Regions from separate parts of the Homo sapiens genome. Here region 2 is linked to region 1. A link means that fine-mapping ties the variant in region 1 to the expression of a gene that starts in the linked region. Tissue or cell type: anterior cingulate cortex. Region 1 holds a variant in brackets; the other region holds the start of a gene. All regions are shown on one strand. Distances are between the middles of the regions.

Region 1 (6,266 bases):
CTGAATACTGTTGACCCTGGAAAGCAAAATAGGACTGAAATTATTCAGGATACATGAATGCAATGGAATTAAATATGTCGTGAACTGAAGATAATCTACATGATTACCTCCACAGATGTAGAAAAGGCTTTCAGAAAAGTCAACATCCCTTCATGTCAAAAACTCACAATAAACTAGGTATTGAAGGAATGTACCTCAAAATAATAAGAGCCATCTATGTGACAAACCCACAGCCAACACCATACTGAACAGGGAAAAGCTGGAAGCATTTCCCTCGAAAACCTGCAGAAGACAAGGATGCCCTCTCCCACCACTCCTATTCAACATATTGAAAGTCCTGACCAGGGCAATCAGGCAGGAGAAAGAAATAAAGGGCATCCAAATAGGAAGAGGGGAAGTCAAACCAACCCTGTTTGCAGATGACATGATTCTACATCTAGAAAACCTTATACTCGCAGCCCAAAAGCTCATTCCACTGGTAAACAACGTCAGCAAAGTTTCAGGATAAAAAATGAATGTACGAAAATTACGAGCATTCCTATACACCAACAACAGCCAAGCTGAGAGCCAAGTCAGAAAGGCAATCCCATTCACAATTGCCACAAAAAGAATAAAATACCTAGGAATATAGCCAACCAGAGAGGTGAAAGATCTCTACAATGAGAATTACAAAACACTGCTCAAAGAAATCAATTACAAAACACTGCTCAAAGAAATCAGAGATGACACAAACAAATGGAAACACATTTTATGTTCATGACTAAGAAGAACCAATGTCATTAAAATGGCCATACTGCCCAAAGCAATTTATAGATTCAATGCTATTCTTATCAAACTACCAACAACATTCTTCACAGAACTAGAAAAAAGTATTTTAAAATTCATATGGAACCAAAAAAAGAGCCCGAATAGCCAAGGCAATCCTAAGCAAAAAGAACAAAGCTGGAGACATCACATTACCCAACTTCAAACTATACTACACGGCTATACTACAAACTATACTTCACCAAAACAGCATACTACTGGCACGAAAACAGACACAGACCAATGGAATAGAACAGAGAGCCCAGAAATATGGCCACACATTTACAACCATCTGATCTTCAGCAAAGCTGACAAAAACAAGCAATGGGAAAAGAACTCCCTATTCAATAAATGGTACTGGGATAACTGGCTAGCCATATGCAGAAGACTGAAAATAGACCCCTCCCTTACATCACATACAAAAATCAGCTCAAGATGGACTAACGACTTAAATATAAAACCCAAAACTATAAAAACCCTAGAAGACAACCGAGGCAATACCATCCTGGACATAGGAACAGGCAAAGATTTCATGGCGAAGATGCCAAAAGCAATCGCAACAAAACAAAAATTGACAAAAGGGATCTAGTTAAATTTAAGAGCTTCTGCACAGCAAAAGAAACTATCAACAGAGTAAACAGTTTACAGAATGAAAGAAAATGTTTGCAAACTATGCATCTGACAAAGGTCTAATATCCAGCATCTATAAGGAACTTAAACGAATTTATAAGAAAAACACAAACAAAAAAGTGGCAAAGGACATGAACAGACACTTTTCAAAAGAAGACATACACGGGGCCAAACAGCACTTGAAAAAAAGCTCAACATCACTGATCATTAGAGAAATGCAAATCGTACCAGTCAGAATGACTATTATTAAAAAGTCAAAAAAGAACAGATACTGGCAAGGTTGTGGAGAAAAGAAGACTTTTTTTTTATACATTGTTGATGGGAGTGTAAATTAATTCAACCATTGTGGAAAGCAGTGTGACGATTCCTCAAAGAGCTAAAAGCAGAACTCCCATTCGACCCAGCAATCCCATTACTGGGTATATACCTAGAGGAACAGAGATCATTGTATTATAAAGACGCATGGCCCTGACTGTTCATTGCAGCACTACTCACAATAGCAAAGACATAGAACCAGCCTAAATGCCCATCAGTGACAGATTGGATAAAGAAAACGTGGTACATACACACCATGGAATACTATGCAGCCAAAAAAAAAAACAGAAGGAGACATGTCTTTTGAGGAAACATGGATGGAGCTGGAGGCCATTATCCTTAACAAACTCATGCAGGAACAGAAAACCAAATACCCCATGTTCTCACAAGTGGGAGATAAATGATGAGAACACATGGACGCAAAGAAGGGAACGAGACACTGGGGTCTACCTGAGGGTGGAGGGTGGGAGGAAGAGAGGAGCAAAAAAGCTAAGTGCTTGATACTAGGCTTAGTGCCTACGTGATGAAATAATCTGTACAGCAAACCCCCATGACATGAGTCTATATAACAAACTTGCACATGTTCCCCTGAACCTCAAATAAAAGCTTTTTTTTTTTTTTTTAAGAATTAAAGATCGTTTTAAACTGTGTGCTTCAGACATAGCTAAGTCAGACTGGTCTCCTTCCCTAGTATAGACTTACAGGAGTTGACTGTCATTATTTCACTGTGATCGCCTTTCAACTCCTGCTTCCAGTATAGAAGAACTTTTTCCTTTGTGTTCCAAATCTACCTTGAGCTGGAGCCACCTCATATTGGGAAAGCTGATTATTAATTTTTCAAGAATTTTGTGATCCAGTTGTTCAAAACAACCATTATTAAAAATTAAATTGGCTGGGCGCGGTGGCTTATGCCTGTAATCCCAGCACTTTGGGAGGTCAAGGTGGGCGGATCACAAGGTCAGGAGTTCGAGACCAGCCTGGCCAATATGGTGAAACCCTGTCTCTACCAAAAATACAAAAATTAGCCGGGCATGGTGGCAGGTGCCTGTAGTCCCAGCTACTCAGGAGGCTGAGGCAGGAGAGTCACTTGAGCCCGGGAGGCAGAGCTTGCAGTGAGCCAAGATTGTGCCACTGCACTCCAGCCTGGGCAACAGAGCAAGACTCCATCTCAAAAATAAATAAATAATTAAATTAGATAAACC[A/G]TCAATTAGATCCTAAAAACAAAGGTAGTCAATATTCAAAATACATCAATTATTAATTATCATCCTACATTTTACTATAATCTATGCCCTTGAGGTTATCTGTATGTGTATGGTAGAAATACTATATGAGAGTGTGCTACTATCCATCTTTTCCCAGTTCCACATCAGTGACATCACGTTGGTAACTTAAAATTGTGGGAATAGTAACACCATGGAAATTGGCAAATGGCACAAGCCAGGGCTTTTTGTTCCGGAGAGCAAGTGGTTAATCAGCATATCACTGCTGATGCAATCCTTTGCCTGTTTCCCTTGAACGTACAGGTGAGTGGATAGGAAGCTGTTTGGTGTCTGGTTGGTTGATCGGATGACTGGACGGATGGGCGATGGATTGATTGTATGGCTGGAGGCTGCTTCCCTTTCTGACAGTCACTGGACCCTAAAGACCATGTCCCCAGTGCATGAAACAGCAGAGCAGCACGAGGATGGCCTGACTTTAGATGGTCAGCCAAAGGCCTATTCTTAGCTGAAACCCAGTATCAGTCTGCTCACTCTTGCCTAAGTATAGGAAGTGGACAGCTTGCTTTGAGAAGTGGGGCAACATATCCACCTAAATGTTGCTGGAATAAGTAAAGCATTCCCTGCAGAGGAAAGGGACACCTTTATTCTCTTCGTGTCTGCAGGTGGCTTTGGTGCCAAGCTGTCCCCTGCCTGCTTCTGTTTTCACCCCCAGCCCCAGTGCTGCAGGCTGATGGGGCTCCTTCTCCACTGACTCGCGTTTCCTCATATTCATGGAGCTCTGCCGGCAGCTAGGCTGAGGGAGGAGCTGGGCATACAGCTCTGGCCATACAGAAGGTGCTGGTAAGAAACGGAGGCAGAGAGCAGTGCAACAGGATGCAGAGGGACCGGCACTATCAGGAGTGAGAGAGGTGAGAATGGCAGTGGGGTGGTGTGTGCGACCTCCTTCCACGGGAGCAGCAAGACGAGGCACCATGGACTCATTTGTATCTGCCGCCTCTTGTCCAAGCAGCTGTTGGAAAACAACTAACACCATTTTCTAGGACCCTTGAAAGGGAGGAGGTTGGGTTCCAGCCCCAGCTCTGCTTCTGATACCCTGTGTGACTCTGAGTATATTAATTCGCCACTCTGGGCCTCAATTTCCCATCTATAAAATAATTATGAGCTTAGATCAGTATCCCCATGTTAAAGGATACTTACTCTGTGGTCAAAAAAGTTTCTTGGGCAAATGTTTAAGAAACACTCCATTCACACTGGATCCCCTTCTTGGGGATTCTTAGTGCTCCTCAGTGCATTAAAGGCTCTGATCAGTCCTGCAGGAGAGGGCCATGTTTATTTTTAACCTAGCATGTCCCAAATGTATTTATCCACAGAAACCTTTTGAGACAATTGCTGTTCTGGAGTATCTCAGAATCGAGGTCCCTTTCAACTCTCTCATCTGTTCTGGTTTTATGGACTGTAAGACAGAAACGTCCTCCATGTGAGGAGTGCCTTGGAGGAGAGAGATGGACCATGTAAAGATGGAGGGAGTGGCCAGGCATGGAGGCTCATACCTGTAATCCCTGCACTTTGAGAGGCCAAGGTGGGTGGATCACGAGGTGGAGATCGAGACCATCCTGGCCAACACGGTGAAACCCCGTCTCTACAAAAAATACAAAAATTAGCTGGGCATGGTGGTGCGTGCCTGTAGTCCCAGCTACTCGGGAGGCTGAGGCAGGAGAATCGCTCCGACCCGGGAGGCAGAAGTTGCAGCGATCCAATATTGTGCCACTGCACTCCAGCCTGGTGACAGAGCAAGATTCCATCTCAAAAACAAACAAACAAACAAAAAAAGATGGAGGGAGCTTTTGGAACGGATCTTCAAGGATGGCCAAGAGCCTTCTACATGGAGGAAGGGTCCACTGAATATAACTTGCCACATTCCAGGAGGAGTGGTGGGCATTTCGTGTTAATTTCCAAGTCACTGGCCTTGAAATAAAGTGGAACAGGATGGAACGGCCATTGTGAGCCTGCTCAATTCCACGTGCTAGATATACATCATGTTATTTAAACATGAAAGGAGGGGACATTGTGCCCATTCAATAGATGAGGGACACAAGGCTTCAAGAAATTAAATGGCTTGCTCAGAGCCACATCCCTAGCATGTGGGAGAGCTGAGGGGTGGTCCAGAGCTTTCTGATTCCAAAGCCTCCATTCTTTCCACCCCACTGTGCCTTTCCCAGGAGGCAGGGAGGCCTTGGCTTGGCTTGGGTTAATTCTCCTTTTCCAGGAATGACCTGCAGCTGTTCCTATTGCCCCGGAGGCCTGGGCAGTTCCTCCCCACCCAGAGGGCTCCTCCGCTTGGCCACCCAGGTTGGCTGCCCTTGGAGGGCCATTTTGGCTCTGGCCTCCTGAGAAGCTCCAGTCATTGCCGCTCTGTGGCCTGGCTGTGGCCCCTCCCCTGCCATCCATCCCACACTACAGGTTCGCCAAGAACCTGCACGTCCCTGGCTTCTGCCTGGTGCCCTGCATCTCATGTCCTAGAGGAAGTCTCCCCAGTCCTCCCGGGCCCCCTCTCCTGGCTCATCAGAGGCAGCCCTGTAGTAGGGACATACATGTGTTTTTCCCCATGGGCCTGTTTGTTCCTAGAGGATAGGGGCTGCATCTCCTGCATGGCTCAGGAGCCCTGGCTGCTGGCCCTGGGGTTACTGTGGGAAGCCAGGGTCAGCTGGCACTTTCCTGAGTGTCACAGGCATTTTCAGAACCCTGCTCCTAGTCCCCCTTTCTTTACCCCCCTACCACAACTCCAGAGGTCCGCATGAGTGTGTGGGCCTCCCTGAGATGCAGGAGGGTGAGCTGGATAGAAGCTGGGCTGTGGCATCAGACAGAGCAGCCCCGACCCTCCACCTACTATTGGGGGACACAGGCAGGTCACTTAACTTCTCTGAGCCTCACCTGTAAGATGAAGCTCCCAGGGTGGTCTTGGGAATTGACAAAACAGTGCACTTAAAGTTCTCATCCCGGGCCCTGCACACAGTGAGTGCTTAACATGCTGTAGTGATGGAGGTGGAGGAGGAGAACGGAGAAGGGAACTGAATGTCAGAGCCTGTCAAGGCTACCGCAGGCTGGAGTCCCCGGGAAGCAGACTCCACAGTGATTGGCGTGCAGGGCATGTATAGAGAGAGCTCTTGGGATTGAGGCCCGTGGGGGAGAAGGAAGGAAGCAGGATTGTGTCGAGGAGGAGGCTGAAGCCCCTGCTGACCCCAGGAGGTCAGGAGCTGGAGGGCCCTTCAGCACTGCCCTGGGTGGGGGTGAGGGGCC
Region 2 (5,633 bases), 460 kb after region 1:
TGTAGGGGTGGCAAAAAGGCTGAAAAGGAACCAGACTGGAGGCTGGTGAGTCAGTGCTTGGTTCTGTGGCCAGCTGGTAGCCATGGAAGATACCAGAGTAGGAAGGTGACTGACTTGCCTCAGGAAGACCACAACTGATTGGTGAGTTTTTCATTCCTATGGCTACAACTTTCCAGGAAGCAGAAATATAGTCATGGGTACAGAATGAACGTGGGGAACAGGTTTAATCTAGAGTACTGAGTGGTAACAGCAGGGCAGAAGAGCTTCTCTTTAGAAAGGCGGAAGGCATGGGGATAGGATGACCTCTGGAGTTTGCCTTTAGCACATCCTCTGTCTTGAGGGAACTCTGGATCATGCTCCCTAGGGCACCAAAAATTGGTGGGATCCAGGTGAAAGTGGCCATTCACCCAAGAACATCAAATGATCTTGGCCAGGTGCAGTGGCTCACACCTGTAATCCCAGCACTTGTGGTAAGCTGCGGCAGGCAGATCACTTGAGGACAGGACTTCAAGACCAGCCTGGCCAACATGGTGAAACTCCATCTCTACTAAAAGTACAAAAAATTAGCCAAGTGTGGCGGCCCGCACCTGTAGTCCCAGCTACTCAGGAGGCTGAGGCACAAGAATTGCTTGAACCCACGGGGTGGAGGTTGCAGCGAGCTGAGATCGCACTGCTGCACTCCAGGCTGGGCAACATAACAAGACTGTCTCAAAAAACAACAAAAACCTTGCTGACTTTGAGTAACACGAACTACCTAAGGTCCAGATATCATCTATCTCCCTAGATCCTGTTAGCCCAGCCTCCTCCCTTCACAAACTGGTTCCTATCATCACGGTCCCAGCTTGTCTAAGGGTGTCTCCGGCCTCTTCATCCACAGTGAACTACCAAACTGGGAATTTTGGAAGCGAGGTTTGGCTTCATTGTTCAACGAGAATCTTCCTGTATGCAAAGCTCTAGAACACTGGAGCCTTTGTAAGGAGGTGCCAATTAAAATGCCTGTCTCCTAGTAGGAGTGGGCCTCTGTTGCAGCTTTGTTTCTAGCCGTTAGACCAAGAGGGCAGTGGGAGCAACTTGCTCTGATGACCCAGTGAGCAGTGCAGGCACTTTACCTACACTGGGGAGGGGCTGGGGAACAAACTATGTAATCATTGGCTCACTCATCTGGAGACCTGTAGTATCATCTGGTTGTGCCGCCTATCATCTGTGTGGCTTGGAGCATGTCACCTAACCTTTGTGAACTTCTTAGGTAGACTAAGAATAATACCAACCTAGAAAGCCTATGGTGAAGACTAAGTGAACTAACATGTATGAAAATGCAAACATAATACCTATTCAAAGAAGACTTTGGAGAGGGATTAGTTTTCTTTCCCCCCATGCTTCCTGCACACATGTACTGAAAGAGTAACCAAATAATTAGACCTGCAGATGGAAGAGATTTCAGAGGTTTGAATGCCCTTAAACACAACCCCAATTAGTGATTATCCAGTCTCTACTTAAGTTCTCTGAAAAAAAGGATATCAGTTGCCAAGTCTTTATCATTTAGCGAGAGCTCTGCTAAGATGATGATGATGATGATTTTTTTTTTTTTTTTGAGATGGAGTTTCACTCGTTGCCCTGGAGTGCAATGGCACGATCTCACTTCACTGCAACCTCCGCCTCCCAGGTTCAAGCGATTCTCCTGCCTCAGCCTCCCGAGTAGCTGGGATTACAGGCTCCCGCCACCATGCCTGGCTAATTTTTGTATTTTTAGTAGAGACGCTGTTGGCCAGCCTGATCTGGAACTCCTGACCTCAGGTGATCCACCTGCCTCAGCCTCCCAAAGCGCTGGGATTACACGAATGAGCCACCGCACCCAGCTAAAGATTTTCTTGAAAGCCTGTCTAGATCCTGAAGAACTAATCCCCTTATCTCCCTCCCTCAGTATGATGAAGAGATTTATGAGCATCATTTGAAGACACATTCATATTATGTTTCTTTCAAAGGGGTATGAGCTCCTAGAATAAGAAGAGGCACTGGGCCAAGGAGCATGGCTGGGCTCCAGTTCCCAGGTCTGATTCAGTGTGATCTTTGTCATTTCCTTTTCTATGTCACAGTTTCCTCATCTGTAAACTGAAAGTTGGGCCTGATTTTTTTCATTTTTTCTCTTTTATGCATGTGCCAATTTGTTTCCCACAGAATACTGACATCTTTATAAGCTCTCAAGAAAGACATTATAAAAACAAATTTCAGATATACTTTGAACATAGGCTTCATTATACGACATATACCTCTTTCTGTTTGGATTTTACTGTCCACTTAATATAAAAACCTGTATTAATCACTAAGGAAAAGGATAGAGGAGACTTAGAAATATCTCCAGAATAATTTTGCAACAATTCCAAGATTCTCTGCACTTCTTTTTCTGTCCCTTAATTGGCCTCCTCCACATTTTCCAACTATGGAGGTATTGCTCTACTCTCTTCGACTTTACATTGTTTTAGAATGCTTTTGCAAGGAGACTCTGCCTTGAATGAACCCAAGATATGGTGCAATGTTGAGGAAGATCTCCAAGTTTACACATGCCTGTACGATGGCCCAAAGGTCATCATCAGGTGAAAGGGACGACCTTAGAGATGAAAGAAGTTCAAGGAATGGTGCTACATTAAATGACTTAGCATTAGAAAGCATCTACTTTGCTTTTTCTTTCACCAACCCTGAAAGCCAAATAAGGCACTGGGCATTCAGGCCTTCTTTTGAGCAGAACACGTGATTACGCAGTTATTCTTCAAGAGCCTCTGTTAATCTGTCGCTTGGAGAACTCTGCATACTGTCCCAAATCCGTCTGAATTTTCCATCGGCTGCCAGTGTTCGTAGCAGAGGCCTCGGGTCTTCTCGTCCTCTCCTCAGGGTCTGGCAGCTGTCACTACCGTGGACTTCGGTCCAGTCCCCAGAGTCGGGGGCGCTGCCTTTCCCATTTCAGTTGCCAGGGGGTTCATCCACGATCGTGCCAGAGGGGCAGCGCGTGGTCTCCTCGAACTACGGGGGAGAGAGGAACCACTGTTGGCACGGGCCGGACTGAACGCCGGCTCCCACTGCCTACCTCCTCGGAGCTGCATCCGCCGACATCTTGCGCCCTACTCCCAGCACCAGCAGGGCACTTCCGGGAAGAACGGAATTGCGGTTCCGCGCGTGCGCACTCCGCAGCCACCGCCTCCCGCGAGGAGCGAGAGTCCCGCGGCCCCGCCCCGCCGCCGCAGCCGCCGCCGCAGCCGAAGGCCGGCGTTTCTGACCTCAGCCAGCGGCGACGCAGCCGGGAAAGAACTGTCGAGGGCGTCTCCGTAGTTCAGTTTTGGTTTGTTTATTTGAGACGGAGTCTCTGTCGCCCAGGCTGGAATGCAGTGGCGCGGTCTCTGCTGACTGCAGCCTCCGCCTGCCGAATTCAAGCGATTCTTCTGCGACTGAATAGCTGGGACTACAGGGGCGCGCCACGACGCCCGGCTAATTTTTGTATTTTTAGTGGAGACGGAGTTTCACCATGTTGGTCAGGCTGGTCTCGAACTCCTGACCTCGTGATCCGCCCGCCTCGGCCTCCCAAAGTGCTGGGATTACAGGCGTGAGCCACCACGCCTGGCCCACCCCACTCGGTTTTTAAGGAGATAATTACAAGGTTATTTTACGGTTCATAGTGTGTTTCAGACCTCCCAGAAGCCTAACGGTGTATTATAAACCATTCTTTTCTTTGTTTTTAAATGCATTAAAAACCTTTTTTGAGATAAAAATAGTGCAAGTACATGGTTTAAAAAAAGAAAATCAGATTGCACCAAAAGGTTTATGATGAAAAACAATAATGTTCTGTCCCTTTGCCTCCAAGAGACTCCTTTTTAAAATCTTTTGGGCTGGGCGCGGTGGCTCACGCCTGTAATCCCAACACTTTGGGAGGGTGAGGCGGGCGGATCATCTGAGGTCAGGAGTTTGAGATCAGTCTGGCCAACATGGTGAAACCCCGTCCCTACCAAAAATACAAAAAGTAGCCGGGCGTGGTGGTGGGCGCCTGTAGTCTCAGCTACTTGGGAGGCTGAGGCAGGAGAATCGTTTGAACCGGCGAGGCAGAGGCTGCAGTGAGCTGAGACCGCGCCACTGCACTCCAGCCTAGGCAACAGGAGCAAAATTCTGTCTCAAAAAAAAAAAAAACTTTTATACCTTCTAGTAGTTGTCTCCATTAGGTTTGATTTGGAACATGCTTTCCAGCTACAGGGTTCTTAAGATCATACTTGCTTTTCCTGAGCTGCATCATCTTCAGCTTCCATTATACAGGCTGACGAGGCTCAGTAGCACGGCAGGGCCACTGGCGTATTGAGAAATGGATGGTCACCGTCTTCGCATCCGAGGGTTGTGTGGCGTGCCTCGCGCCAGGAACTCCTTGGCCACTCCGCAGTTTCCTAGCTAGAACCCGGCTTCTGAGCCCAGCACGCTCCAACAGCAGCCTGCCGCGGTCCACGCCTCTGCTCCGGACTTGACCTTTCCCTTCCGGCCTTCCTCCTACAGGTGTCTTGGCACCTGGAATCTCCAGAGGAAATCTGAGGGATTCTCTAAACCCACAGCTGGAACAAGGGACGTCATACACGGCGGCCACCACCATCTTTCCCAAGGACAGCATGGCCATGGATGAAAAGGGCCATTTCATGGGCCTTACCTTCTGCTAGCCAGTATAGCCTAAAGCCCTGATACTCAAATGTAGACTCTTAGGCTCCACCCGGAGGATTCCCTAGGTCTGGGCAGGGCTTGGGAAGCTTAGCAGGCTCCTCAGGTGATTCTGCTACAGATGGTCCAGGACCAGTCTCTGAAAAACACTGTCCTCGGGAAATTGCTTTTATGTATTTACTTTTTCCATCTCTTCTTGGTATTTTGTTATCATTTTCAAATACAGAGACGGAGTCTCACTATGATGCCCAGGCTGGTTCCGAACTCCTGGGCTCCAGAGATCCTCCTGCCTTGGTCCCCCAAAGTACTGGGATTACAGGCACAAGCCACCACTCCAGCCGGGAAATTACTTTTAAAACAGATCTATTTGTATGAGATGTTCTCACAAAACTACTTAGAATAGCAAACAAACAAAAAAAAAGTGATAAAGCTCCCAAACCCCACTGTTGTGCAGAATTAAACATACTTTTTTTTTTTTTTTTTTGAGATGGAGTCTGTCTCTGTTGCCCAAGCTGGAATGCAGTGGTGCCATCTCAGCTCATTGCAACCTCTGCCTCCTGGGTTCAGGCGATTCTCCTGCCTCAGCTTCCCGAGTAGCTGGGACTACAGGCGCGTGCCACCATGACTGGCTACATTTTGTATTTTTAGTGGAGACGGGGTTCGCCATGTTGGCCAGGCTGGTCTTGAACTTCTGACCCCAAGTGATCCACCTTCCTCGGCCTCCCAAAGCGCTGGGACTACAGGCATGATCCACCACACCTGGCCCAAACATTATGCTTTAATGAAGAAATGACATTTTGCCATTAAACCTAAAATATCACAGAACCATGGATTGAAGAACAGACATGAATTACCTTGAAATCATCTACTGCAGTGCCTGAGTGGCTTTGCCTGTTCTCACAGCATGAATTCTCAGTTCACACACAGTAAAAAAAAAAAAAAAAAAATTATGA

Evidence for each region. PIP is the estimated chance that this variant, and not a neighbour inherited with it, causes the effect.
Region 2: TMEM44-AS1 starts here. The variant in region 1 is fine-mapped to the expression of TMEM44-AS1 in anterior cingulate cortex (GTEx, PIP 0.97).

The regions. Positions count from the first base shown.
Region 1 is chr3:195,045,730-195,051,995 of GRCh38, reverse strand. No RefSeq gene overlaps it. Among named protein-coding and RNA genes, the nearest start is that of XXYLT1-AS1, 46 kb to the left of the region's middle. The variant A/G (reference allele first, on the strand shown) is at 2,952.
Region 2 is chr3:194,581,508-194,587,140 of GRCh38, reverse strand. TMEM44-AS1 (TMEM44 antisense RNA 1) reads right to left here and starts at 2,873. Exons shown (of 3, transcript NR_047575.1): 1 at 2,693-2,873. RefSeq lists enhancers at 2,857-2,906, 2,942-3,607 and a silencer at 3,097-3,356.